Linked DNA regions of Homo sapiens. The protein of the gene in region 1 interacts with the protein of each later gene in a pairwise test. Each region holds a gene or a part of one and is shown in the gene's direction. Other genes may lie near its edges. The genes, in order: GPX8, SGMS2, SMAGP and DNAJC30.

What was found.
Region 2: the proteins of GPX8 (region 1) and SGMS2 interact in binary tests that used the Homo sapiens proteins (3 or more experiments, as listed by UniProt).
Region 3: the proteins of GPX8 (region 1) and SMAGP interact in binary tests that used the Homo sapiens proteins (3 or more experiments, as listed by UniProt).
Region 4: the proteins of GPX8 (region 1) and DNAJC30 interact in binary tests that used the Homo sapiens proteins (3 or more experiments, as listed by UniProt).

Annotation. Positions count from the first base shown.
Region 1 is NC_000005.10:55,155,215-55,163,170, forward strand, and holds the start of GPX8 (probable glutathione peroxidase 8), read left to right. Parts: upstream 1-4,956; 5' UTR 4,957-4,978; coding exon 4,979-5,182; intron 5,183-5,776; coding exon of another isoform or gene 5,777-5,779; coding exon 5,780-6,041; intron 6,042-7,956.
Region 2 is NC_000004.12:107,820,670-107,827,937, forward strand, and holds the start of SGMS2 (phosphatidylcholine:ceramide cholinephosphotransferase 2), read left to right. Parts: upstream 1-4,262; 5' UTR 4,263-4,584; intron 4,585-5,002; exon of another isoform or gene 5,003-5,140; intron 5,141-7,268. UniProt on the Homo sapiens protein: Sphingomyelin synthase that primarily contributes to sphingomyelin synthesis and homeostasis at the plasma membrane.
Region 3 is NC_000012.12:51,246,396-51,253,427, reverse strand, and holds part of SMAGP (small cell adhesion glycoprotein), read left to right. Parts: intron 1-6,596; coding exon 6,597-6,677; intron 6,678-6,710; exon of another isoform or gene 6,711-7,032. UniProt on the Homo sapiens protein: May play a role in epithelial cell-cell contacts. May play a role in tumor invasiveness and metastasis formation.
Region 4 is NC_000007.14:73,680,422-73,687,278, reverse strand, and holds DNAJC30 (dnaJ homolog subfamily C member 30, mitochondrial precursor), read left to right. Parts: upstream 1-3,825; 5' UTR 3,826-3,855; coding exon 3,856-4,536; 3' UTR 4,537-6,361; downstream 6,362-6,857. Other genes in the region: BUD23 (18S rRNA (guanine-N(7))-methyltransferase), read right to left, coding at 184-280, 379-461, 548-643, 3,378-3,512, 3,606-3,625. UniProt on the Homo sapiens protein: Mitochondrial protein enriched in neurons that acts as a regulator of mitochondrial respiration. Associates with the ATP synthase complex and facilitates ATP synthesis.

The DNA of each region.
Region 1 (7,956 bases):
ACCAGTGCCAAAAATAATTAGAAAAGGACCCAGAGGGGTTAAAAATAAGGTCAGGAAGTAGCAGAATGAAACAACTGAGAAAATAGAAACAAATATGTCTACTGACAAATAATTTGACACACAAATATCCAGTGGGTTGGAAAAACCTAGACATCCCAGAAAAGACCTGCTGGCGATGCTAGTCTTGCTAGAACCTCAAGAGAAAGATAAAAGTAGCAAAGACAGCCCAGGTAGCTCTGAAGCATACCCCAACCCCGTTCCTTAACCTCTGAGTGTGTGCCGCTCCCACCCACCACCAGCCCAATGCAGCAGCATTCTGTCCACAAGATGTTTCAAATGTAGGGTCTCAATACTATTTCAAATTAGTCATGAAGACCAAAATGTTCATCGTCTCATGTTTGAACTTTCAACGCCCTCCCATCCTAGTAGGCAATATGACCCACACACTGTCAAGGTCATTTTCAGGTAAACATCATCCTTTATCTCTATCGCCAGCAGCTGCCCGCAGGGTCTACAGAGCATCTTTAGCACCCACCCCCTTCCTTCCATCATGCTGGCCAAGGCTACCTTCACTAAGACTCTTCGCCTATCATCTGGACCTGCTGCTCTGCAGACCTCCCGTGGCCCCTTCCAGATAACTTCAGTACACACAGAAAAGCCTTTTGGTGGTGTTCTCCATGCCTTCCCCTTTCTGGGCGCTTATACAGTGATTTCTTATAAAACAAAATGCCTCCTCACGAATGAAACCCCTTGTATTAGTCTGTTCTCATGCTGCTAATAAAGACATACCTGAGGCTGGGTAATTTATAAAGGAAAGAGATTTAATGGACTCACAGTTCCACATGGCTAGGGAGTCCTCACAATCATGGCAGAAGGTGAATGAGGAGCAAAGGCATGTCTTACATGGCAGCAGGCAAAAGCTTGTGCTGAAGAACTCCCATTTATAAAACCATCAGATCTCGTGAGACTTATTCACTACCACAAGAACAGTATAGGGGTAACTACCCCCATGATTTAGTTATCTCCATCTGGCCCCACCCTTCATATGTGGGGATTATTACAATTCAAGGTGAGATTTGGGTGGGGACACAGCCAAACCATATGACCCCTCCACCAGAGTACTACAGCCATCTCACCTACAATGTTTTCTTCTAAATAAATTTATTCACCTATTACACAGAAACAGTTTCATGAAGTTGAAATAATTTTGGTTATGAAGTCGAAAGTTCAAAACTCTATTCTTCATTGTTCCATTCACTAATTCTGTGATCTTGGCTGAGTTAACTGCTCCCTATTTCAAAGAATTACTGTGAAGAAGGTAATGTGTCTACTAAAGAAGATTGTGTGCAGTATAAAGCTCTCTAAAAACATAAGTCACTGGCCAGGCATGGTGGCTCATGCCTGTAATCCCAGCACTTTGTGAGGCCGAGGCGGGCAGCTCACGAGATCAGGAGTTCATGACCAGCCTGACTAATATGGTGAAACCCCATCACTACTAAAAATACAAAAATTAGCCGGGCATTTTGGCGCGTGCCTGTAGTCCCAGCTACTCGGGAGGCTGAGGCCGGAGAATCACTCAAACCCAAGAGATGGAGGTTGCAGTGAGCCGAGGTTGCACCACTGCACTCCAGTCTAGCCGACAGAGTGAGATTCTGTCTCAAAAAATAATAATAATAAATAAAAAAATAAGTCATTTATTTAGCACTCAGTTATTTACTGCCTTGTAATCCTTCCGTTTCTTGTGTGTTCTCATATTTCCAAAATTGCTTTTACAGTTGCATGAGGCTGGCTCCTTCCCTTGCACCTTATTTGTATCCTTTCCAGTGCTTGAGTTGGTTGATAACTGAGTCAACTACTTTATGCCCTTCTTGACCCAGTAGCTTCCTCTTGCCTTCATCATGAACTCATCAATCTCTTCTCCTCCTATAGAAGCCTTCCTTCATTTACTGAAAGAGCGCTGGTGGTTTTTCTAACATACTACCCCTTATGCAGAGAAATGTGCCATTTTGATATATGTATAGTCTGAGAATAGAGTTAGTATAGACAGAACATGAAAACAATAATGGTGGATCCCCAGAAGGCTGAGAGATGATGACATCAAAATGTGTGCAGAGAAAGACTGCCAAAACAACAAAGAAGAGGTGTGACAGGGCCAAAATCTGTGTTCATCCAATGCTGTCCAGCGCACAAGTTCTCCAAAGTGCTGTCTGAATGTTTGGTTAATGGGTCAGTATGAAAATTTATATATCATGCCTTCATTATTTGAAGCTCTTAAGCCTTAGGAACATTAAATTAACAAACTGGCTCTGATTTCATCCTTGACAGGAGATATACACGTAAGTTTTCAAAGTTGTATTCATATAATATGGAATTTTGTGGTGAAACCAACCTCAACATCAGGCCTGCATAATGTTTTATTTCTGGTGTAAAAACTGGCTTATTCAGCAATCACAAGCAAGTTTGTAACAGCATAATTTTGGCATTTTCAAATCCATTCATCTCTGGATCACTTGATAAGAGTTTCTGTACTTATAATACAATGGACTAGAAACTATCACAGTGATTTTATCAAAATAATATCACCCTAGGGGGCCCTGCCTAAGCGGTGGTCAGTCAACATCCCTGCCAAAGATAAATCACTCTCTTTCCACCTCAAAACACAGTTATAATGACTTGGGTTTACACGGCTCAAATTACAGCAGGTATTCTATGAATTAATTTTAAAATGCATGTTCCTAAGCCATTTGCTTGTACAGCCTGAGGAGTTAAAATATCTCGTGTATTCATAGAGACATGAACACATCCACTATGGAAAACAAAGACAAACCAAAGACTCTTGTTGCTCTGAAACCAAAAAAAGTTTGAGGTCTAAAGGTTCTCAAACTTAAACGTGTGTATGTGTCATGAGGAGATCCTGTAAAAGTACAGATTCTGACTCGGGAAGTCTGGGGTGGGGCCCAAAATGCTGTGTTTCTAACAAATGCCCAGGTGATGGTACTGTGGAAGGTCCCAGATCCCACTTAGAGAGCAAGGCCAGAGAGCTTAAGCAACATAGCAGTGTTCATGTCATATAAACACAGGGACTTTGACTTTTTAAACAATTCAGCCAGAGAACACCAAAGTAAAATTATCAGGAAGTGATACAACACATCTTACATACATTTTTGTTCTTTACTAGGAATTATGTTTAAAAGGGAATACTTTCTGCATAATCATTGCTTTTTCTACTGTATCCATTCTTACTGAGCCATGAGAGTAGGAGTCGAGCGGTTCCTCTCACAAGTTTTACACAGTAGGCTATGGGCTTTGCTCAGCCACCCGAAAACACACATGCCACAGAGCGGGAACCAGAAGAGCAGGCAGCACCCTGAGCACCCTCTCTGAAGCTCCACAAGCTAACAGTGACAGGAAGGGCACTCCACAAACATCTCAGCTCATTCCCTGCACTTTCTGGAAACACATCATGATCAAATGGCATAATGCCCCTTCATCCAGATCTTGCCATGAGTCTTAAACAGAGCAGAATTGAAAGTGAATGGCTTTTAGGATATACAGCCCTCAATTGCCTCCCCATACCTACCCCTAAAATTCATGACCGTTAGCAACAGCAAAGTTAGGCCCCCTGTGCCAGGCAACAGCCAGGGGAGGGAAATAAAGAGAAAAAACGAAGCAATTAGATGACGTGCCCAAGTAGAGGTGGGTTTTGCAGGGTTTGTTTGTTTTCAGGGATTTTTTTTGGTAGAATTGCCTTATTTAACTGTTAAATTACTACTTTATTATCGAGTTCAATTTTTGCTTTTTTCCCTCTTCTTCTTTTGTTCTGATTTTAAGATAGTCTCACTCTGTCACCCAGGCTGCAGTCTACAAACACGACTCACTGCAGCCTCAACCTCCTGGGATCAAGCGATCCTCCCACCTTTGCCACCTGTATAACTGGGACCACAGCCATGCACCACCACAACCAGCTAATTAAAATTCTTTTTTAGAGACAGGGGTATCGCTTTCTTGCCCAAGTTGGTCTTGAACTCATGGGCTCAAGTGATCCTCCCATCTAGGCCTCCCAAAGTGCTGGGATTACAGGCGTGAGCCACCATGCCCGGCCTCAGTTTTTTCCATCTACAGGTTGTAGTGCATCGGTGAATGATGAAATCATTTTGATAGGTCAGAACTGGGTTGTTTAAAAATGCAACAGGTGGGGGTGCATCACAGTTCAAAGGAGAAGTGTTGTTTCTCAGTTGTGTGTTGTTTGTACCCAGTTATGTTGTAAAGTGCACTGCTGACTGGGGGTCATGAGTAGAAATTTGAAAAACACTGGACTATAGTTTGCTCTATGATAGAGAAGGGTTTCTTTTAACACCTTCACTGTTTTTAACATATTTATTTTGACTGTATTCACTTGGTATTTGATTGCCTTAGCTAGATGAATCAGGGTAAATAGCCTTTTTCAGATATTTCCCTGCTCTTTCCACTATAAATTTCCTGAACTCATATAGCATGTTTAACCCATACATGTAATAGTAACGTCCTTCAGGGTATACACCATATGAGTAGGTCACATTTAATCTACATTCTAAACTATTGCTGAGCATCGTACTCCATCCTCTGCATCCAAACAGTTGCTCAATAAATACACAGCTTAGCATGGGGAATGAGCCCTCCGTAGCTTTCGAGTTACAAGAGCACCATCTTCTGGCGAAATATTTTCTTTGTAGGGAGAATGTCAAAGACCTACCAAAAATGTCCTGATTTTTCTAGCAAAAATTATAATTACATCACAAATACTTTGAAATTCTGTAGAGCTCCTTGCTTCATTCAGGAGTTTCGCTTCATTTCCCCTCTGAGAAGTGGTCTTTCTGTTCCTTAGCAGTGAAAGCAGTCAGCCTGTCCTTCCTGGTTTTCCGTTAAACTAAGCCGGTTTCAAGTTTCAGCTCCTCCTTGAATTCCAGGCTGCTGAGACTTCCCTCTAGAATCCTCCAACATGGAGCCTCTTGCAGCTTACCCGCTAAAATGTTCCGGGCCCAGAGCAAAGGTATTTGCAGTTTTGCTGTCTATAGTTCTATGCACAGTAACGCTATTTCTTCTACAACTAAAATTCCTCAAACCTAAAATCAACAGCTTTTATGCCTTTGAAGTGAAGGATGCAAAAGGAAGAACTGTTTCTCTGGAAAAGTATAAAGGCAAAGTAAGTTGCATCATCTGATTTTTATTGTTATCATTTTTCCTTGTCTCTGTTTATTCCTCTTAATAAAATCAATTTTTTGCTGTTACATGGTCATAAGTTGGAATTTAGTCTTCAGAGTAATGGTATTAGTACATCACTTTAGTTATTACAGTTCTGATAGTTTGCTTCTAAATAATAAATTCCGATTATCTCGTTTTCTTTAAAATGCTTTAATTTTGTGCTGAATTGACATGTAAAGTTGTTTGGAAAATACTTATAGTTAGTAATGTGAACATGATGACATTTATTAATAAAAGTATTGGTTCTATAATCTAATAACTTTAAAAAGAACTTATCAAGGATCATAGTTTTATCTTTAATTTAAAAATAAACTTTCATGAGTATCTAATGCTTTTTTAATGGCAGTACTATTTCAGGGCCTTAACCCAGGCATCTAGGTTACAGTTTTCAATAGAACTGTGTATGTCCAAAAATATGAAAAAAACATCAATCAGAGGTTATAGTCCCCCCCAAATTGTTTAGGATTTTAACTACTTGCAGAATTTTTTAAAATCTTTTGCTTCACTTTCCGGTTGGATTTTTTTCTTTTTCCGGGAGGTTTCACTAGTTGTAAACGTGGCCAGTGACTGCCAACTCACAGACAGAAATTACTTAGGGCTGAAGGAACTGCACAAAGAGTTTGGACCATCCCACTTCAGCGTGTTGGCTTTTCCCTGCAATCAGTTTGGAGAATCGGAGCCCCGCCCAAGCAAGGAAGTAGAATCTTTTGCAAGAAAAAACTACGGAGTAACTTTCCCCATCTTCCACAAGATTAAGATTCTAGGATCTGAAGGAGAACCTGCATTTAGATTTCTTGTTGGTAAATATCTGCCTTGCATATGCTGTTTTAAATTGCTTTTCATTTTTAAACAATTATACCAGGACAATACTTTCCTATTTCATTTGAAACGTTGTATCGGGAAAGCTTCATAAAACTATCATCAAAGAGCCAGAATCTCATCCTTTGTAACTTCTAGGAGTTATGCTCCCCTGAAATCAATGTTTTAGCTTCTTAGATGGTAAAAGAATTCTATTCCAATATATTTTATTCCTTATTACCATCTTCCTGAAGAATTTACTTAAAGTGTGCCCATGGCTATTTTCACAAAATATCTTAATTCTCCTCTCTTGTAACTAGCATCTGGAGAAATGTCCCTTCCCGTCATTATAGCCACACAGCTCTCATGAATAGTGCTGGGCATTATTAGTTAACATATGTTTGTGGCTAATTTTATGTTGTCTTTCTTATCTGAAACAATATTCTCAAAGATGAATATGTCAGCTTACCAGATTTTTGCTAAAATCCAAAAACATATAACTTGGTTTTTTCAGAGGGCAGTAGTGTTAGGCTATTTCTCCAATTAAGCTAGCTACAGAAATCTGTTTAAAGACTTGCCAAGGTCACTTAGCACAAAGGTCATGAGGCATACAGACAGCATAGGCTTTGGCCTCAAGCTACCTGGGTTCAAACCCCTGCTCTTTTGTTTTTGCTATGTGGCTTCTTAACTTCTCTGTGCCTGTTTCTCATTTGTAAAATGGGCTATCAATAGTACCGCCTTCTTAAGATTGTTTGGAATTAAGTCTGTTAATAGTAAAAATAAAGTACTTATACACTGCTTGCTCTGTGCCAGACACTGTTCTAAACCATATTAGTCAAAAAAAAAAAAAAAAAAAAAAAGGCCGGGCGCGGTGGCTCACGCCTGTAATCCCAGCACTTTAGGAGGCCGAGGCAGGCAGATCACTTAAGGTCAGGAGTTAGAGACTAGCCTGGCCAATATGGTGAAACCCCATCTCTATTAATAGTACAAAAATTAGCCAGGTGTGGTGGTGGGCACCTGTAATCCCAGCTATTCAGGAGGCTGAGGCAGGAGAATCGCTTGAACCCAGAGGCAGAGGTTGCAGTGAGCTGAAATCGCGCTACTGCACTCCAGCCTGGGCGACAGAGCAAGCCTGCATCTTAAATAAATAAATAAAGGACATTAGCTAATGTTCTCTCATCTAACTTATTCTGATGACATCTTCAGTCCTATTTTCACTGTAAATAAGTTGAGTTTTGATCAAACTATTACCTCACTCAGGCAATCAAGCTTCTAATCCAACAAACCAAATAGTGATCTATAATATTTCACATAAATGTGAAGTCAGAATCTTCTAAAAACATTATATTTAATTTCTAGGGAAAGTTGATATAATGCCTAACGCCATAAATGGCAACCACAGTGAGGTCTTTATTCCTCTTATTTTGAAGGTCCACTGAGGAAAGAAAAGCCCAAGCACATGCCATTGAACTAATCATTCTTCAGTTACAGCAGCCAGATACGTGGGTGCAATAGCTCATAGGTTATTTCTCTTTATCACTACAAACCTTCTAAAACCCTTCTTAGCCTGTGTAATCAAAAAGGTAACAGTGAGTTAAGGTGTCATTCCACTTAGATAGGAAGGATCATAGAGCCCAAAGGTTAAGAGCATGAGCTCTGGAGTAAAAGGCCCGTATATCAATCCTGGCTCAACCACTCATTAGCCACGTGACCTTGTGTCTAGGCTTCCATTTATCTCATCTGCAAAACGGGGATGATAATAATACCCACCTCATAGGGTCCCTGTAAGATTAAAAGAGAGGATCAATTTGAAGCACGGAGCGTACATTAATCTGGCACATAGTAAGCACTTCATAAATTTTAGTTATAATTATTATATTTTTCCTCATGTTAGTCAATAAAATGAACATAAATCTT
Region 2 (7,268 bases), on another chromosome or scaffold:
GCTCAAACCAAAAAAAATATAGAAGTCATCTTTGGCTTCATCCTCATATCCCAACTGATCTGCAAATCCTGCAATAAACATCCTCATGCAAAATTAAAAAAAGAAAAACCTTTCAATTCCTGAGACATATGTTCGTTTAGAAGGTAACATGGTGATTCTTTTTCTTTTTCTTTTTTATTTTCTTTTGAGACAGAGTCTCGCTCTGTTGCCTAGGCTGGAGTGCAGTGAAAGGATCTTAGCTCATTGCAAACTCCCCCTCCCAGGGTCCAGCGATTTTCATGCCTCAGCCTCCTGAGTAGCTGGGATTACAGGCATGTGCTACCATGCCTGGCTAATTTTTTGTATTTTTAGTATAGACGGGGTTTCACTATGTTGGCCAGGTTGGTCTTGAACTCCTGGCCTGACGTGATCTGCCTGCCTTGGCCTCCCAAAGTGCTAGGATTATAGCCATGAGCCACTGTGCCCGGACCATGGAGATTCTTAGATAAACAGCCATGGGCACAAAGTAGGAATTCAATACAAATTTGTGGGTTGAGCAAATGACTTTAGATATGTTCAGATTCGAGTTACTGTAAGAGGAAATAAGTACTATAGATCTACATGTTTTCCTAAATCAGTATGTTTTATCAAATCAAAGAAATACCTGTAAAACTTGATTTATGCTGCCTTGGAGAAAACAATGGACAAGAACACACTTATCTATCATCCATTTCTCTCCCTTGAAACACTCAGTGCCATTATTTTTGAAAGGTGATGAATTGCAAATTTTGTCACTTTTCATACATGGTAAGAACAAAAGGTGCAGTTAAAAAACAAAAAAAAAATCATCTTTCTGTGAAAAGGATGTTACTATTTCTTAAAACATAGAAATTAAGATGAGTAATTTGCTTTCTCATATGTTGATAATGAATAGATTGAAAAAACTTCGTATCATCCATTATCAATTATATTATTTAATATATGTACTTGGGGATATTTAAATGGTATAATAAAATGACCTAATTACTTATTTCACAATATTTAAACTGAGGCACAATAGTAACCACTAATTCAAAACTACCCATTCAACAGCCTTCCACACAGAGGCTTATGAGGGAACTACAGGGTTTATATCAGCCAACAGTGCAGGCAGAACTGCAAGCTTTGTTTGGAGCTTTTTGACTTTATCCATGTACACAGGCCAAAAAGCCCACAATATCAATTGAGATCTGTAGAAAATTGTATTTAGACTTATCCCATAATGTCCAAATATTTGGATCATGAAGTAGGGAGTAGGTGGGATATTCACGCAAACTTACTTATAGATGGCTATACATTTGAATCTAGTCATTCAGTGTTACCAATGGATAGGACACCCATGCTTCTGAATTAGCTCTGTGATTGTCTATAAAAACTGCTGATTTGAATTTTGACTGCATCCTAGCAAACCAATCCATTTGCTATTGCCTTCTGGGCAAAATGCCTGGGCTTTGTAAATTTGAAAATGAGCTCCTTATTGAAGGGGAAAAATAAACCCCAGGACAATAACTTTCGATTGGTGGTCTCCTCTGGGTTCTAACCTTTAAAAGTAGCTCTAAAAGAGTCCATTTTCCACAACAATGATGTTGAGCCCTTGGTTAATTTTAGGAGCATTTTCATTTGGGGGAAACTTCTGTATTGTGACAACATCTTTTTTTGGTTTTATATTTTAAAAATTTGGGGGGACCGGGCACAGTGGCTCATGTCTGTAAATCCCAGCACTTTGCGAGGCCGAGAAGGGTGGATCGCAAGGTCAAGAGTTCGAGAACAGCCTGACTAACATGTTGAGACCCTGTCTCTGCTAAAAATACAAAAATTAGCCAGGGTTGGTGGCACACACCTGTAATCCCAGCTACTCGGGAGGCTGAGGCAGGAGAATTGCTTGAACCCAGGAGGTGGAGGTTGCAGTGAGCTGAGATTAAGCCACTGCACTCCAGCCCAGGCGACAGAGCAAGACTCCATCTCAAAAAAATTTTTTTAAATTTAATTTTTGTAGGTACATAGTAGGTATATTTATGGGGTACACACAATATTTTGATATAGGCACATAATGCATAATAATCACATCAGAGTAAATGGGATATCTACCATCTCAAACATTTATCCTTTCTTTATGTTACAAACCAATTATATTCTTAGTTATTTTAAAATGCACAATTACTGTTGCCTGTAGTTGCCCTGTTTTGCTATCAAATACTATACCTTATTCATTCTATCTAACTATATATATATTTTTTACCCATTACCCATCCCCCCTACCCTTCCCAGCCTCTGGTAACCATCATTCTACTGTCTCCATGAGTTCAATTGTTTTAAATGTTAGCTCCCATGAATAAGTGAGAACATGTGAAATTTGTCTTTCTGTGCCTGGCTTATTTCACTTAACATAATGACCTCTAGTTCCATCTATGTTGTTGCAAATGCCAGGATCTCATTCTTTGTTATGGCTGAATAGTACTCCATGGGTATATGTAACGATTTATCCATTCATCTGTTGATGGACACTTAGGTTGCTTCCAAACCTTGGCTATTGTGAGTAGTGCTGCAATAAACATAGGAGTGCAGGTATCTCTTTGATACACTGATTTCCTTTTTTGGGCATATATACCTAGCAGTGAGATTGCTAGGTCATACGGTATCTCTATTTTTAGTTTTATGAGGAACTTCCATACTGTTCTCCATAGTGGTTATACTTTTTACATTCCCACAAACACAAGGGTTCCTTTTTTTTTCCACAACCTCGCCAGTATTTATTGCCTGAGCACCTTTTCATATACCTGTTTGCTATTTGTATGTCTTCTTTTGAGAAATGTCTATTCAAATCTTTTGCCCATTTATTACTCGGACTATTAGATTTTTTTTTCCTATAGAGTTGTTGGAGCTCCTCATATATTCTGGTTATTAATCCCTTGTCAGATGGATAGTTCCCATTCTGTGGGTTGTCTCTTCAGTTTGTTTCCTTTGCTGTGCAGAAGCTTTTTAGCTTAATATGATCCCATTTGTCCATTTTCTTTGGTTGCCTGTACTGTGACGACATCTTGAAGTTGCGAGTTTGGGGATTGCCTGCCTTGTATATTCTTTTCTGTTACCATCATCTTTAATAGCCACAAATGACTGTTGACCCACATGATATCTGCACTAGAAACCCAAAGATTCCCGTCATTATTTTTGTTGATTATATGGAAGCACCCATAAACCAGCGCAAATCCTAAACATAATTATCTTGTCCAGAAGGAGACATTAATGTAAAACTTATGTCAAGAAAGATTTAGCCACATTCCCTCGGATTGGTCATTCCTAGTTAGAGTCCTTGAGGCTGCCATCGTTTACTTTGAAAACTGCCCAGCAGGTGTATGAATAGCAACTCCAGGACAATGTAGAACCATTACCATTTTAAAGACAGCAATCCCCCTTTTAAAAAACTACTGAGGCCTTCGAAGAAACCACACGGCTGCCTTGGGCCCCAAAAGCTGCGGAAAAGCGCAGTATTCAGTTAAGCAAATAACTACTTACACTGTTTATTTTGGTTACGATTCCTTAAGTGAGAAGTAAATCAATTAACAGGACAAATGACACGATGGTTAGGCACGAAAGGGACAGTGCTGCCACCTCATTAGCTTGGAGCAACCTTCCAGCTCATACCATGCGGACTGATGACTAACCTTGCCAGGCAACGCTGTGAGGTTTGGAAACCCACCTCTTTGACCTAGGCCCGGTCAACACCGATAAACCCTCTGAATCAACGCTGGCGCTCCCAAGCCCACTCACACGCCGTCAGGAAGCAGTTTCCGAAACAGGCCGGGTGCGGGGGTGGGGGATCCCGTTCCAGCCCCACCCCTGAAAGTTGCTGGGAGTGGCACCCAAAGAACTTTCCCAGATTGATCTCTGTTGCCGCTCAGGGAGGTCAGCTCCAGGCCCTCAGCCTTTCGGCCGGGAGCCAAACTGCCCTGCCTGCCAAGCCCCTCCTTCTCTGCACCTTAAACAGCCGCGAGGGGAGAGTCGGCTGGGATTTTCTTCTTAAGAAGTCGCGCAGGTTTTTCGAGCTCCACTCTGCGCCAGGAGAGCCACGGCAGCAGGAACGGGCACTGCTGCCACCGGGCCGACGGGTGAGTCACTGTTTGGAAATGGAGTGGGCGGGCGAGGGTGTGAGAGAATGAATGATGTCAAGAGCGCGCTGGGCGCAGGGCGCAGGGAGCGGGCCGCGCGCGGCGGGCGGGGAGAGCGGGCGCGGGGCCGCGGTCAACACTGAGCGCCGCGCCGTGGGCCGAGTGGGGCGGGGAGACCCAGCCCTCGGCGCGCACGGAGCCTGGCCGGTGCTGCAGCGCCGCCGAGTGCGGCCTCGGGGGCGGCGGCCGCGGGAGGGACCCGGAGAGCTGCTTCCCCTAGTCAGGCCGCGGCGTGGGAGGGCGAGACCCCGAGCAAACTTTCTAGCGGCTTCGGCCCGAGGGTGGTGACGCCCGGGGCTGGTCGCGGCGGCTGCGGCAGCGGGCTCCATCCCCTGGCAAATCCCCTTCCCGGGAGCAAGTGCCTTCAGCTGGGAGTGTCTGGAGCCCTGGCCACCAGCGGGTAAGGAGCGCGCGGAGGGGCCAGGAGGAGGATGGGCTGGGGAGCGGAGAGTCCTCCGAAGCGCGGGAGGGGAAAGGTGGATTGCGAAGCGGGGACGTGGCTCTAATCCGGCCCCCACCCTCCCCGCCCAGGGCATGCTTCCTCGATTTTGTGGTCTGGAGGAGAGATGTGTGCCTTAGTCTCCTTCCTCTGAGCAGTCATCTCATTCATTTGCAACCCATTTCGGGTACCCCGGTCCTGGCGTTGGAAGGGCACAGGTTAAACCCCAGATTGTCCAGAACCACTCCGGAGGTCAGGGCTGAAGTTCAGTTGGTGGAGGAGGGACTGTGTGTGTGTGTTTGTGTGTGTGGTTTTTCTTTTCTTTCTCTTTTTTTTTTTTTTTTTTTTTGAGAGGCACTTACTGATGATGTGTGAACAGTAACAGCCCAGCTCTGGGCAGCCCACACCGAAACCCTTCAACGTGTGGCATTCCAGAGCTGCTCCCTTTACGGAAGGGAAGACTTGGTTTCTCAGCGAAAATAAGGGGCGGGGAACCCCTGTCAACATCCATCCAGAGGTATGGATAATCATTAATTATCCACGGCTTGAAACCAACTCAAAATGTTATGTCCTGTAGTCTTTTTTATTTATTAATGTTGCCGGTCCTCTATTTCAAGTCTTGCCTGCTCTGAAATGACCTTAAAATCATTTTGACATGTGTGTTATATTTTGAAGAGATTCAACTGTTTAGTGTCACTGGATTCGGCGTGGGTTTTCAATCTGTACCTAACTTTTCAAATCCTTGGTTTCATTACCAGTCTCCTCTATTAACGGTGGGTGCTCAGGCACATTAAACATTCTGAACCAGTAAAATGGGATTATAGCTACTTCAGATAATAAGGTGGATTAAATAAGGATTAATAATGAGGATAATAATGAGGATTAAAGCGCAAAAGACTTCTCATAATGTCTGGTACAAAGCAGACCCCAACAAATTATAGCTGTTTATATATAAATAATAGTGTGTTGCAGCTGGCTTAGGTAATAACCAATTAATTTCCACAGAATGTCCTCCTTATAAGCCTGGTGGGCCGAGGGTTAGCATGTGAAATCCTTTGGCAAGTTCCTTAGATTGGGAAGTGATGTTTTCAGCAAGTTAAACATTTTTAGTACGGATACCTGAGAAGGTTATGGTTTCCATCCTGTGTCATGGGAACTGCCATTTACTGTTTAAACAATGTCAGAGCAATGGCTGAAAGTGACAACCTGGAATTTACAGGAAGAAAGGACGTGAGGAAGCTAACTTTACCTTTACCTTTTTTTTTTCCTAAAGAAGCAGTGCAAGCAGTGCAAAATTTCCTCTTTATGGCCCTTTCCTTGGTCTTCTAATGTTCTTACTTCACAATAGTCTGGTTGAAGTGTTTTTTTTTTTAACAAGTTAATGTTTAATTTGGTTCCTTTGGTTTCATTTTTAAGTAAAGCTAGTTGACTTGTGAACCTAGAGGGAAACACTTGGACACCTTGAGGTGGCTGCACCTTGTTCTGAGTTTCTCCCCTCGCAGAATCTCATAAAAGCCCTAGGAAATGTTTGGAAGAAACTTTAGCACTTGTGCACGTTATTGAAGACATTTGCTCTTACCATAACTATAACAACTTACAGGGTGAAAGATCTGGGAGCTGTCCTACGACAGTACCGTGTAGTGAGATCATGGACATGGGAATCCAGGAGACCTGAGGCTCTCTGAGCTGTGTTCCTTTGAGCAAGTTTACTTAAACTCTTTGGGATTTTTGTGGGACTTTAAACAAAATATAGGGGAAAAATAGAAATAATCTTAGAACTATTAAAATAGACAATGGAGTATCAGTGAGAACTTTTTTTAAAAGTGATGCTTTGAGGTGAGATGTTTCTTTTTTAAAGGAATAATTACTGAGAGTTTTGGACAGTTTTAGACTAAACAATGACTTACCCACCTTTAGCGTGTTGTCTCAATGGAGAAATTGAAGGCTTTGTCTTGAACTACTAGTATCAGATATTTATTTGCTTAACGTTTAGTATGCAACAACTACATAACAGCCACTGTGCTAGGGGCCAGCAATGCAAACGAAGGAGATAGTTGCTACCCCAAAGCTTATAGTCCAGTAGAGACCTCAGGCTGTGATTATCAAGAGGGGAAAAAAGGAGTCAAAAAAGGAGAGTGCTGGGGACTTGGGAAGAGACAAGAAGTGATTAGGCCGTCATAGGCTGCCTCCCACTGATAATAAGAGATCTGGTGGCATTCTGAATGGTCTTGAATAGGGGCTCGTAAATTCTTTATGAGGCCGAATAATAAAAGTATGCCTTGCTTTACACAGTAAAATATTACGGACAAGTGATAGCTCTTCAGTTTAAATAATTTTAAATATTCAAAGCAAGCTTGTTTAAATGAAATCTGAAGGGTCAGCTCAGCTCAACTGAGATATATTTGCTGTGTGGCTGGGTGCAGTGGCTCACACCTGTAATTCCAGCACTTTGGGAGGCCGAGGCAGGCAGATCACTTGACGTCAGAAGTTCAAGAGCAGCCTGGCCAATATGGTAAAACTCCATCTCTACTAAAAATAGAAAAATTAGCCGGGCATGTTGGTGCTCGCCTGTAGTCCCAGATACTCGGGAGGCTGACGCAGGAGAATCGCTTGAACCTGGGAGGTGGAGGTTGCAGTGAGCTGAG
Region 3 (7,032 bases), on another chromosome or scaffold:
CCTAGAAGTGGGATTGCGGGATCATACCCACCCAGCAATGAGATTGCTGGGTAATTCTGTTTAATCCTGGCAGGAACTTTAAAGGTAAGGGTTTTTGCCTGTGTTGTTCACTGATAGAAGCCCAGAGCCTGGCACAGAGTACACACTCAGTAAATTCTTGTTGAACTAACTGTTTAATTTCCCTGTCTAGGAACCTGGAATCTCAGTCTAAGAAGGCTGTGCAGCTTATCTGACCCAGCTTGCTCTCAGTAGTCCCATTCTGACTTCTAATGCTTGCTGTTTCGAGTTCAAAGCCCCCCAAACAGGCCGTAATAGTGTGTTCTAGAACTTTGCTGGGGAGTCACATCAAGCTCACCATTGCTTTATGGACTCCACCTTCCTTCCATGGCCCCTTCAGGTTCCCGACCCCTTTCTCTTTCTCAGAAGCTCCTATGTCACCAACAGAAATCCCATTTACAAGTTCTTGCAGTGCCTTTGGCTGTCATATCTGGTCCCTTTTAGATTAGTCTGGTGCTTGCTGGGTTTCTTTGCTTCTCTTGAGCTCACTTCCCCCATGTCCCCAAAGGCTCCACTGCTCCTTAGTGCAAAAAAATGATTCTCTTTGATAGGAAACAGAGGTGAAAAGGCCTGAGGGAATTCTGCTTTCTCTGTTACCTCCAACCTGACCCCTCAGGCCCAAAGAAGCCTAGCTTTTTCTTTGTTCTTGTTGCAAATATAATGCTTTTTAAATTGTCCTTCGGGGGGCGATGTGGCTCACGCCTGTAATCCCAACACTTTGGGAGGCTGAGGAGGGCGGATCACCTGAGGTCAGGAGTCTGAGACCAGCCTGGCCAACATGGCAAAACTGTCTCTACTAAAAAATACAAAAATTAGCCGGGTGTGGTGGCACATGCCTGTAATTCCAGCTACTTGGGAGGCTGAGGCAGGAGAATTGCTTGAACCCAGGGGGCGGAGGTTGCAGTGAGCCGAGATGAAGCCACTGCACTCCAGCCTGGGTGACACAGTGAGACTTGGCCTCAAAAATAATAATAATAGGCCGGGCACAGTGGCTCATACCTGTAATCCCAGCACTTTGGGAGGCCGAGGCGGGCAGATCACGAGGTCAGGAGATCAAGACCATCCTGGCTAATATGGTGAAACCCCGTCTCTACTAAAAAATACAAAAAATTAGCCGGGCGTGGTGACATGCGCCTGTAGTCCCAGCTACTCGGGAGGCTGAGGCAGGAGAATCGCTAGAACCTGGGAGACAGAGGTTGCAGTGAGCCAACATCGCGCCACTGCACTCCAGCCTGGGTGACAGAGCGAGACTCTGTCTGGAAAAAAAAAAAAAAATCTGATGTAGAGTCTGCCTTCTTGTCATCGTTTAAATATTGAGGTAAATTTCTTTGCACCTTTCTTCATCTGCACTTTCTGCTTCACCAGATGGCTTCATATAAGTGGAAACTGACCAATAGCTGCATCGCAGCAAGGCATTCTGTAGAATTTTTTTCTTAAGGTCTTCCTGTATGGCTAAAATATTCTCTAGTTGTGAGAAAGCTTGCTTCTGATCATGTTAAACATTAAAGCTAAAGAGGGTGGGGAGTCCTCTGAACCTCTTTTGGTTCTAGGGGCTGCTCAATTTAAAAAAATTAAAGAATAGATAACTGAAAATAAACTAAAAATAAAGAAGTCACATATAAACCAACATGACTTCTGCATTACACTGACATCGTTCCCTTAAGTTACCTATCACCAGTGAGCCAGTTCATGTTAAAGAAGCACTTTGTAGCACAACTGTCTGTATTTAATTGTGATCATCTGGTTTCCTCCCACCTTTATTCTTTTTTTTTTTTTTTCTGAAACAGGGTCTCACTCTGTCACCCAGACTAGAGTACAGTGGCACAATCACAGCTCACTGCAGCCTGGACCTCCTGGGCTCCAGTGATCCTCTCACCTCAAGTTTACCGAGTAGCTGGGACTACAGGTGTGTGCCACCATGTCTGGCTAACTTTTTTTTTTTTTTTTTTTTTGTAGAGATGGGAGTCTGGCTATGTTGCCCAGGCTGGTCTCCAACTCCTGGGCTCAAGCGATCCACCTGCCTTGGCCTCCCAAGGTGCTGGAATTACAGGCGTGAGCCACTGCACCCAGCCTCCTCCATATATTATTTTTAAAAAACAAATAGAGATGGTGTCTTGCTATATTGTCCAGATTAGTCTCAAACTCCTGGCCTCAAGCAATCCTCCTGCCTCCGCCTCCCAAAGTGTTGGGATTACAGGCGTGAGCTACCACACTAAACCTAATGTACAAAGTAAGTTACTGTTGATGATTGAACACAAATTACTCATCTTCAAGCTTCTGATATACATTAATCTTCTCAATGCTTTGTACATCCTAAATTCTCAAAATGTTTAAAGAAAGCAAAACTAGGAACAACTGTATAGAACTCTAGATCCATGGTAGGAAGATGGATTGCAGCCCTGGGCGATTTGGGGAGGAAAGTGCATGGTGAAATGTGTGAAGTCATGACCAGGTAGATAAACTTCAGGGCTTCCCTTTGATGGGAGTCACAGTGTTGTATAACCTAATCTCAGAAGTTACATGCCATCATTTTTGCCATCATCTGTTAAAAGCAAGTCACCAGGTTCAACCCATATACCAGAGGAGAGGCATGCTCAAAGATGTCAATACCAGGAGGCAGAAATCATTGTGAGCCATCTTAGAAGCTGTACACCACACTCCCATTTCACAAATCAAGAAACTGAGGTACTGCCAGGTGTGGTGGCACACGCTTATAATCCCAGCATTTTGGGAGGCCAAGGCAGGAAGATTGCTTGAGGTCAGGAGGTTGAGGCCGCAGTGAGCCAAGATTGCACCATTGCACTCCAGCCTGAGCAACATAGTGAGATCCTTGTCTCAACAACAACAACAAAAAAAAAACAAAAAAAAAACACAACAACAACAACAACCAGGTTCAGAGAGGTTTAGTAACTTCCTCAAGGTCACCTAGTAATATGCTTAGGCAGGATTCAAACCCAGAGCAACTCTCCCTTTAATTAATTTATTTTTTTGAGACAGGGTCTCATTACTCTGTTGCCCAACAATTCAGTAATGCAGTGCTGGCTCATTGCAGGCTTAACCCCCTGGGCTCAAGCAATCTTCCCACTTCAGCCTCATGAGTATCTGGGACTACAGGCGCATATTACCACACCTGGCTAATTTTTACATTTTTTTTTTTTTTTTTTTTGTAGACAGAGTCTTACTGTGTTGCCCAGGCTGGTCTCAAACTCCTGGCCTCAAGCGATCTTCCCACCTTGGTCTCCCAAAGTGCTGGGATTACAGGCATGAGCCACCATGCCTGGCCCTTTTAATCACTAAGCATATTAACAAAGTCACCTTAAATAATATTTAAGTAGTAGCTACTATATGATGTTTACATGTTCTCTCATTTAATCTTCATAATAGAACTGCAATGTTGGTTAATATAGTTCCTGTGGGTAACAGATGAGAATGGATGAATGAATCCATATGTATAGGCGAGGCACAGTGGCTCACACCTGTAATCCCAGCACTTTGGGAGGCCGAGGCAGGTGGATCACTCGAGGCCAGGAGTTCGAGACCAGCCTGGCCAACATGGTGAAACCCTGTCTCTACTGAAAATACAAAAATTAACTGGGCATGGTGGCACACACCTGTAATCCCAGCTACTCAGGAGGCTGAGGCAGAAGAATCGCTTGAGCCAGGAGGTGGAAGTTGCAGTGAGCCGAGATTGCGCCACTGCACTCCAGCCTGGGCAATGGAGCAAGACTCCATCTTAAAAAAAAAAAATGTATAACTGTTCTAGACAAACTCTAAAACCATTTTTCCTCAGCTCTCACAACAGTTGACACAGAAGACTTCTGTGACCCCAAAATATTTGAGAATTTCTCTGCACCAGCAAGCAAGCAAGCAGTTCCACAGCAGACACCAAGAGGGTGTCTTCCAATTCAATTCTGACACTATCTACCTAGAGATAGTGTCAGATACCACAGGCCAAGGTCTGGGCCCCCAAGGCTGCAGCTCCCTTCAGACACTAGTCACAAGTCCAGGCTCCAAAACTTGTGACCAACCAGCTTCAAGTTGGAGTTCCCACCCCTGCCAACCCCTGCTTTGGAGTTCAATTAATTTGCTGGAGTAGCTCACAGAACTCAGGGAAACAATGTGTTTACTGGTTTATTATAAAGGACATTGCAAAGGATACAAATGAGGACATGTGTAGGGTGAGGTGTGGGGAGGGGGGCGGAGCTTCCACGCCCTCCCTGGTGCGTCACCCTCCGGGAACTTCTGCATGTTCAGCTAGTTGTTTTTGGGGTTTTGTTTTTGTTTTTGTTTTTGGATGGGGTCTCATTCTATCCCCCAGGTTGGAGTTCAGTGGCGCGATCTCAGCTCACTGCGACCTCCACCTCCTGGGCTCAAGCGATTCTCATTCCTCAGCCTCCCAAGTAGCTGGGATTACAGGTGCACACCACCATACTTGGCTATTTTTTTTTTTTTTTTTTTTTTTTTTTTTTTGTGGTATTTTTGGTAGAGACAGGATTTCGCCATGTTTCCCAGGCTGGTCTCAAATTCCTGGGCTCAGGAAATCACCCACCCTGGCCTCCCAAAGGGCTGGGATTACAGGCATGAGCCACCATGTCCAGCCATGTTCAACTATGCGGAAGCTTTCTGAGGCCAGTCCTCTTGGGTTTTTAATGGAAGCTTCATGATGTCAGCATTCCCTTCCCAAATTCTCCCTCTGGAATGAGGATCTTATGACCCACTATGGGAAAGGCAGAGGAAGATTAGAGTCCTGCCTTGGGGCAGGTGAAGGGAAGGGCAGGAGAAGGCTGGAGAGATGCTGTTTCCTGAGGCCCGCTCCTGCGGTGTGACACACCCACATCATAACACAAGGCTAACGGGCTGTGGGAATTAGGAGCCAGGAACTGGATGAAAACCTAGAGAGAGAGAGAGAGAGAGAGAGAGAGAGAGAGAGAGAGAGTGTGTGTGTGTGTGTGTGTGTGTGTGTGTGTGTGTAAAACACCACAGTAACCATTCGCCCAAGGCCAGAGTGGTTGAGGGTACTACCATTCCTAGACAAAGAGGGGACCAGAGAGAAAGGTTTGGCCTGGCCTTGGGAGAGGAAGCGCTCTGGACAGCCTGCCTCTGCTTTCTGTATTGCAAGATGAGGATGGTTCATCAGGCTCCCCTGGGCCCGCGTGGAAAGACCCTTCAACACTCTTGGCCCCTCTTAGCATAGGCCCACCAGACCACCACTGATACCCTCATTTCACTTGCTGTGGATGGAAACCTGAACGTGTCAGGCACTGGACGGGAGTCATGCTCACACCGCGCTCGGGCCACGCTGGCCTTTGAGTCCCCTGGTCTCAGAGCTTTGACCCAGGCTCTTCTCTCTGCCTAGAATGTGCCCCATCCCTGTTACCCGGTAAACTCTTACCCCTGCTTCAGCTCCCAGGTCAGATATTCCTCCCTTGGGGGGTCGCTTCTGGCTGGAAGACTAGATCAGGCCCCTCGGCTGCACACTTTCCTAAGTGCACTTACAGCAGCTCCTCACCGTGCAAGCTGTGGGGTGCAGTGGAGGGTGAGCCTCGGGAAGCTGGCCGTGTCTGTTTTGCTCGACCTTTCATCTAGCACAGGGCCTAGCAAAGAGGAGGCAGTGGGTGAGTGTTGCTGTTTATGGGATGCCAGTCAGGTCGGGGTGCCTCCTGTGGGTGTTGCCAGGATCAGCCAGCTGGTTTTCCCCAGGAGACCTCTATCCTGCAGTAACCTCTACATTAAAATGCTAATAGGAAAGAATGGAAGGGCTTCCTGACTTCCTGTGTAAACACTTAAAAGGGACTTCTGGAGACCACTCATTTTGTCATGTTCTGTCCCTGGGTAATGACTTTAGGGTGGGACTTTCACGCTCTGAAGGATAAATAAACCCGTAGCAGGAGGGGGTGCAGGATCTATTTTAGGGTAGAGGAGAGGCCTGTTTCAGAACCTTTCAAATTGCAGGGCCTATCCTGGAAGTGTAGAAAAGGGTTTTTAATAGGAGAGGAGCACTATTTCATTATGTTAAAATAATGTTTACAAAGAATTAGTAAGAATGCTGCAAGAAAATGCACATGCTATATAATATAATGTAAATATATACACATACAACTCATTTGATCTCACTTATTGTAAAAATATGCATTCCTAATAATGGCTTATCCTACTGAGTGACTTATTAAATGTCACAACAACGTTTTAAAGTAGGTACTCTTACCTCCATTTTGCAGATAGAGGTTAGGTAATTTTCCCAAGGTCACACAGCTAGTAAAGGACAGAGTTCATATTTGAAACCCAGTCTGTCAGGCTCTATAGCCCCTACTCTTAATCACTATATTATGCAGGGAGAAATCCATCAACATATTGTCTTTGGGTGGTGGTTTATTTTCTTCTTTATTCTCTAGGATTTTCTATTTGGATATACTCTAGGAGTTAAATGATAAACTTTTGAATAGGGAAGAAGGTGGGGTGGTGAAATTTGAAGGCCAAACATATGCTTTCAAACAAAAGAATTCACTCCATTTCCTTTTCCACTTTTCTACATTTTCCAGAAGAACTGATGACCACCCCAATTTTACAGCCCACTGAGGCCCTGTCCCCAGAAGATGGAGCCAGCACAGCACTCATTGCAGGTAATAGACTCTGAGCCAACTCCAAGGGACCTTCTGGATCAAGGGCATCTCTCTCCAGAGGGAGCCTGACCAAATCCATTAATGGGCTCACTCTGGCTTGTAAGTTATATTACACACACACACACACACACACACACACACACACAGCCATAAAAGACTCGGAGGCTTCTGTCAGAGGCACTACCAGTAAATGACAGGTTGGGAGGTGGCCGCAAATAGATATGCATACGGACGTTACACTTGAGTACGTGGGTAGGGACGAGGATATATGTGGTTGGTTGAGTGGGTGAGGAAGAGGGGGAGGATCAGATAAACCACTTCCTGTTAGGATAAGCCATTTCCTGTTCCCTCCTTC
Region 4 (6,857 bases), on another chromosome or scaffold:
GCTAGGTACGGTGGTGTGGGCCTGTAGTCCCAGCTACTCAGGAGACTGAGGTGGGCAGATCACCTGAACCCAGGAGGTGGAGGCTGCAGTGTGAGCCATAATCACAGACACTGCACTAGAGCCTAAGTGATAGAGTGAGACCCTGTCTCTAAATAAATAAAAGCAGGAATTAAAGACCCTCACCTGATGCAACCATCAAATGTGCCTGGCTTGAATGGGATGCCCTGGCCCATATCCCCCAGCAGCAGGTCTCCCTCTATCTCTCGGTCCACAGCCTCATCTACATTAGAGAAAAGGCAGTCAGAGAAAGAGAAATACCTGTGGCTTCTCCACACCCATCAGGGTAATCCACCCTGGTGCCAGACAGGACATACTTACCCAGCATGGCAGGGCTGATATCCAGGCCCACCCAATAGTGCCCTTCATCTGACAGATAACTTCCACTCAGCCCAGTGCCACAGCTGGAAGACATGACCAGACACTCAGGGTCAGTTTACAAAGACACTTCACCACCTTAGACAATCTGAACCAGGCCCCAGAATCTCACCCAATATCCAGCAGGTAACAGGGCTTATTCTCTGGCAGATAAAGAAGCTCCAATGCTCGCCCAGCCATCCTGGTCTGGATATCAATCATCCGTGAGCTGGTAAGGCAGAAACACAAGTGGACATGGTAAAGGAGTTCTGGGTGAATACTTCCCCCAGACCAAAAAACAAAAAACAAAAAAAAGCCAAGTTAAAAACAAACAAAAAACGGATCAATCATCCCGAGGTACTCTTTTCTGACCCCTTCTAAGTTGGGATCAACAAATTCAACCATTCGAAAGTGACCCCAAAAATTCCATGTAATTCAGGACCATGTTATTTTGTGGTAACAACTTATCATTGCACCAGCTGCCAAGCAGATGTGTAAAAGCAAATCACTTAGCTAGTAATAAACAACCACTGGGATCTGCAACTCTATTAGGCTGGGCTGCTCTAGCACTTGTTGAAAACATTTTCTCCAAAAATTATTCTCCATAGTTTCTCTCATCTAGAAGGATCAACAATGCACAAAAACCTACAGCAGCACTGTCTGTGAGAAACAGAATGTGAGCCACGCATGGCTTCCCAATAGCCAGTCAAGAAGAAACTTAAAGAAACAGGTAAAAGAAACTGGAGTCATATTTTTTTTTTTTTTTGAGACGGAGTCTTGCTCTGTTGTCGCCCAGGCTGGAGTGCAGTGGCGCGATCTCGGCTCACTGCAAGCTCCGCCTCCCGGGTTAATGCCATTCTCCTGCCTCAGCTTCCCCAGCAGCTGGGACTACAGGCGCCCGCCGCCACGCCCGGCTAATTTTTTTTTTTGCATTTTCAGTAGAGACGGGGTTTCACCATGTTAGCCAGGATTTCTCTATCTCCTGACCTTGTGATCCGCCAGCCTCGGCCTCCCAAAGTGCTGGGATTACAGGCGTGAGCCACCGCGCCCGGCCTCTGGAGTCATATTTTTAACCCCATATATTTAATAACGTATTTCCATTAACTCAATATGTTCAAAATATCACTTCAACATATAATCGACATAAAAAGTCATCAGCAAGGACCGGGCCTGGTGGCTCACGCCTATAATCCCAGTACTTTGGGAGGCCAAGGCGGGTGGATCCCGTGAGCAACTTACCAGATCCCTGGGCAACATAGCAAAACTCCCTCTCCACAAAAAAATTACACAAACTAGTCGGGCGCGAGGAGGCGCGCCTGTAGTTCCAACTACCCGGGAGGCGAGGTTGCAGCCACTGCAGCACTTCGGCCTGGGCGATAGAATGAGAGCCTGTCTCACACGCACAAAAAATTATCAAGCTATTTCAGCCGGTGTGGTGGCGAGTGCCTCTAGTTCCGGCTGCTGGGGAGGATGGCTTGAGGCTGCAGTCGGCAGGGATCATGCCATGGCACTCCAGCCTGGGCAATAGAGAGACCCTGTCCCTAAAAAAAAGAAACAGTATCCAATAGCTATTTATTTATTTATTGAGTCAGGGTCTCACTCTGTCGCCAAGGCTGGAGTGCAGTGGTGCGATCGCAGCTCACTGCAACCTCTGCCTCTCAGGTTCAAGTGATTCTCCTGCCTCAGCCTCCCGTAGGCCCGGCTAATATCTGTATTTTCAGTAGAGACGGGATTTCACCATGCTGGCCAGGTTGGTCTCGGAATTCCTGACCTCAGGTGATCCGTCCACCTCCGCCTCCCACAGGGCTGGGATTACTGGTATGAGCCATAGCGCCCGGCCAGTAACCATTTACTGAAATAGGGCTAGTCTCTCAGTGAGAGAGCACGGAAAAACCACAAAGTATCTTTTTTTTTTTTTTTTTTTTTTTTTTTTTTTTTTTTGAAACAAAGTCTTGCTCTGTCGCCCAGGCTGGAGTGCAGTGCCGTGATGTCGGCTCACTGCAACCTCCCCCTCCCGGGTTCAAGCTATTCTCCTGCCTCAGCCTCCCGAGTAGCTGGGGTTACAGAAACCCGCCATCGCGCCCGGCTAATTTTTTCCATTTTTAGTAGAGCTGGAGTTTCGCCATGTTGGCCAGGCTGGTCTCGAACTCCTGACCTCAGGTGATCCGTCTGCCTCAGCCTCCCAAAGTGTTGCGATTACAGGCGTGAGACACCGCGCCAGCTTCCCCCCGCCCCCATCCCCCCCCCTTTTTTTTTTTTTTAACGACTCGAGGTGCGCTGGCTCACGCCTGCAATCCCAACAGTTCGGGAGACGAAGGCGGGAGGATCGCTTGAGCCCTGGGCTTGGGCCACCTTGGGCAACACAGCGAGACCCCATCGCAACAAAAATTTACAAAAAAAAGCCAGGCGTAGTGGCGCGCGCCTGTGGTCCCAACTACTGGAGAGGCAGAGGGGAGCCACCACACCCGGCTAATTTTTTTATTACTTGCGGAGACGGGGGCTCGCTACGTTGCCCAGGCTGGTCTCGAACCCCTGAGCTCAAGCGATCCTCCCGCCTCAGCCTCCCAAAGTGCTGCGATTGCTGAGATTACACGCGTGAGCCACTCCCACCTGGCTACAACTCAGTAGTTATACAAACTACCCTCTATGAAATTCAGACAATAATACACCAACTGCTGTCTTGGAGATTTATTGGCAACAAGGCGCCACGATAAGCATCCTACGGCCATTACTTCCTTCCCCCCACCAGGACTGACCCCTCGCCCGTACCCACCGCCCAGCGCCTCTTTTACCACATGTTTAGGACAAATTGTCACATTCGACTTTGAAAACCACCCACGGAAAGCAAGCGCGATCACCCCTACCTCAACGCTGAGGTACCGAGGCCCAGAGAGGTCGGCAACTTAAAGTTGATTTACCAGAGACAGAAATCGGCACCCACCCGGGTCCTTCCCTTCCCGCACCCCCAAATTCTACGGCCTTTCCGGGCAACGCCAGCAACAGGGGCAACTTGCCGCTTCCCGACCCCCGGACGCCCCGCAGTATTCAGGCTCCCCTCACTTGCGAACGTATTTCCGGGCTTCTGTCTCGTCATAAAACTGCGAAAAAGAGAAAATGGCATGTAGAGGAATAATTCAGACGCGGTGGCCGCAGAAGTGGGGAGAGGGGTGTCCGCGGGCCCCGGGACTTACCAGCTCTGGGGGTCCGCCATGCTCCGGACGCCGGCCGCGGGACGCCATTCTCACGCCTCAGCAGCACACCTGCGACTGGCGCCTGCCGGCACCCGGTTTTTATGTCATCAGCCCGGCGACCGCTTAGTAATACGCATGTTCCACCCCCACGACCGCCCCGCCCCCCCCTTTACGTGACTGGCCACAGGGCGACCAACCGACTCCTCTCATTGGCCGGTTTCTCTTGCACCGCCTGCCGAATCAATTCAACATGGCAGCCATGCGCTGGCGATGGTGGCAGCGGCTGTTACCTTGGAGGTTGCTGCAGGCCCGTGGCTTTCCACAAAATTCTGCACCCAGCCTGGGCCTAGGAGCGAGGACTTATTCCCAGGGCGACTGCTCGTATTCGCGCACGGCGCTGTATGATCTGCTCGGCGTCCCCTCCACAGCCACGCAGGCCCAAATCAAGGCGGCTTACTACCGTCAGTGCTTTCTCTACCACCCGGACCGCAACTCCGGGAGCGCGGAGGCCGCCGAGCGCTTCACGCGCATCTCCCAGGCCTACGTGGTGCTGGGCAGTGCCACCCTCCGTCGCAAGTATGATCGCGGCCTACTCAGCGACGAGGACCTGCGCGGACCTGGCGTCCGGCCCTCCAGGACGCCCGCACCCGACCCCGGCTCGCCGCGTACCCCGCCGCCCACCTCTCGGACCCACGACGGTTCTCGGGCCTCCCCCGGCGCCAACCGCACGATGTTCAACTTTGACGCCTTCTACCAGGCCCACTACGGGGAACAACTGGAGCGGGAACGGCGCCTGAGGGCCCGGCGGGAGGCCCTTCGCAAACGGCAGGAGTATCGGTCCATGAAAGGCCTCCGCTGGGAGGATACCCGAGACACGGCTGCCATTTTCCTCATCTTTTCAATCTTCATCATCATCGGCTTTTATATTTAATCGGAGAGAGAAGGGAAGGGGAGTGTCCCCAGCCAACCCCCCAGAAACGGCCTTTTTTCCTGCCTCTGAACCCTTGGCCATTGATAGTCTACCTTTGCTGGGATCCGAAGGAACTGTACTCCCCCTGCCCTCCCCGACCCGCCCAGCTTAGCCGATGACCTGCACATCGCTCCACTGTGGTCCAGAAAAGGAGGCCTTTCGATGTCTGAGAAAGAGGCCCCACGCTGTAGAGTCCCGAAAGCCCAGGAGTGAAGGGGGTTCCTGGAGTCTCTAGGGTGCTTCTTCCAGAGTCTGTCTTCTTGCTTCCAGATGTGGTCAACTTCTGGAACACTCGCTGTAGCTTTATTGTTTAGCCCCAAGCAAGATTTATCTCCTCCTGCCCCGCATGTGTATGGTGGGCCTCTGTAACCTTGAAATGTGCAATGTGACCAATTGTTGACTACCAAAAGAAAAGGTCTGGGGTTGTACGAAACTTGTCTTTCTGTGACTTCCCCAAGCCGCAGGTGAGACCTGGTCCAGGGTAAGAATGGGATCGGTGGAGAGCCTGTCGTTCCTCCCGCTAAGGTCAGCCCCCTGGGGCACTCCTCCTTATGTTGATAGCATGTAGGAGTGAGAAAAAGTCATTGAGCATAAGGAATGAGTGTTCCTGTGCCCATATTTAATGTGTGACCTTGGAGAAGTTACTCTGTAGGCATGACAGCAGAGGAGAAAATCATTTGGCATCTTGAGGTCTGTCATGCTTTATTATCCATAGTTTTTGGGGGGTTTTTTGTTTTGTTTTGTTTTTGAGATGGAGTCTTGCGCTCTGTTGCCCAGGCTGGAGTGCAGTGGTGCGATCTTAGCTCACTGCAACCTCCACCTCCCGGGTTCAAGCGATTCTCCTGCCTCAGCCTCCTGTGTAACTGGGATTACAGGCTCCCACCACACCTGGCTAGTGTTTTGTATTTTTAGTAGATACGGGGTTTCACCATGCTGGCCAGACTGAGGTCTCGAACTGCCGACCTCAGGCTGTCTGCCCGTCCAGCCTCCCAAAGTGCTGGGATTGCAGGCATGAGCCACTGCTCCCGGCCCTATTATCCATAGTTCTAATCCACAGGGATTACAGCATAATGCTAGCAGGGCCAGGTTCATCCTTGAGACAGTGTGGCTGGCTGTCACCTGGTCCTCCCTTTACCAGCCAGCCCCATTGCACACTGTGCAGCCCATCCCCTCCCAGAAATAGAGTGACAAACTCTGCACTTAAGTCCCCTGTTTCTGTTTAACTTGCAGTGCTTATCACAGGCCCTTCCTTAATTTTTTAAACAAGGCTGCTTGAGGCTGGGGTAAATTTTGGGGCTTTGGGAGTACACAGGACTACTGAGGGACGGGGAGTTGGTGGCTTGGTGTTCATGGTGGAGACTTGGTTCTTTACGCAGAGCAGGCTAAAGGCGTGTTTTTTCTGCTCTGTTTCTAATTCATGTTAAGTAGTTGGTCATCACTTTGGTCAGAGCTGCTGCTGAAGCTCTCTTAACTGTGAGTCACTGGACGTTGGCAGGGAGTTGGCTGTGAGATTGTAGGTGCTCAAGTGTTTCTGTTCGGGACTGAGTGTGAATCTGTAAAAGGGGAAAATCCTCGCAAGAGGTCTACGAGAAGGATGAGGGCCCAAGTCTAGGGTCTAAACAAAGCCAGGAGTGGTTTGGTATATTACTGAGTGCAATCATTGCGTGCCATTCCTGCACTCAATGTATTGTGTAAAATCCTTAGGTAAAATGGGATAAACCCACAGCTGGTCCTACTTGGCCTCTTGAAAACCATTCCATCATTGTGCCAATCTAGCCTGAAAAGGAAAAAAAAAAAGGGAAACCATTGATTGTCTCTTGCCTCGGAGGTTGGGGGTATGCCCCTACTCCAGGCTTTGCAGTGATCATATGATGCAGTAATGAAGATCTGGGGCCTGGCACAACACTTTGGGATCCACCCAAGGCGGGTGGATCACTTGACCTCAGGAGTTGGAGACCAGCCTGGGCAACACGGCAAAACCCCATCTCTACAAAAATCACAAAAATTAGCCGGGTGTGGCAAGTGCCTGTAGTCCCAGCTACTCAGGAGGCTAAGGTGGGAGAATCGCTTGAGCCTGAGAGGTCGTGGTTGCAGTGAGCTGCGATCCTGCCACTGCATTCCAGCCTGGGCTACAAAGCTAGACCCTATCTCAAAAAAAAAAAAAAAGAAAAAGAAAAAAAAGATTTGAGCCCAATCTGGTTCAGACCTGTTTGGCTCAGTGAGCCTGGACTTGGGGGAAGGGGATATGTACTTTTTAAAAGAACATTTATTGTTACTATGTT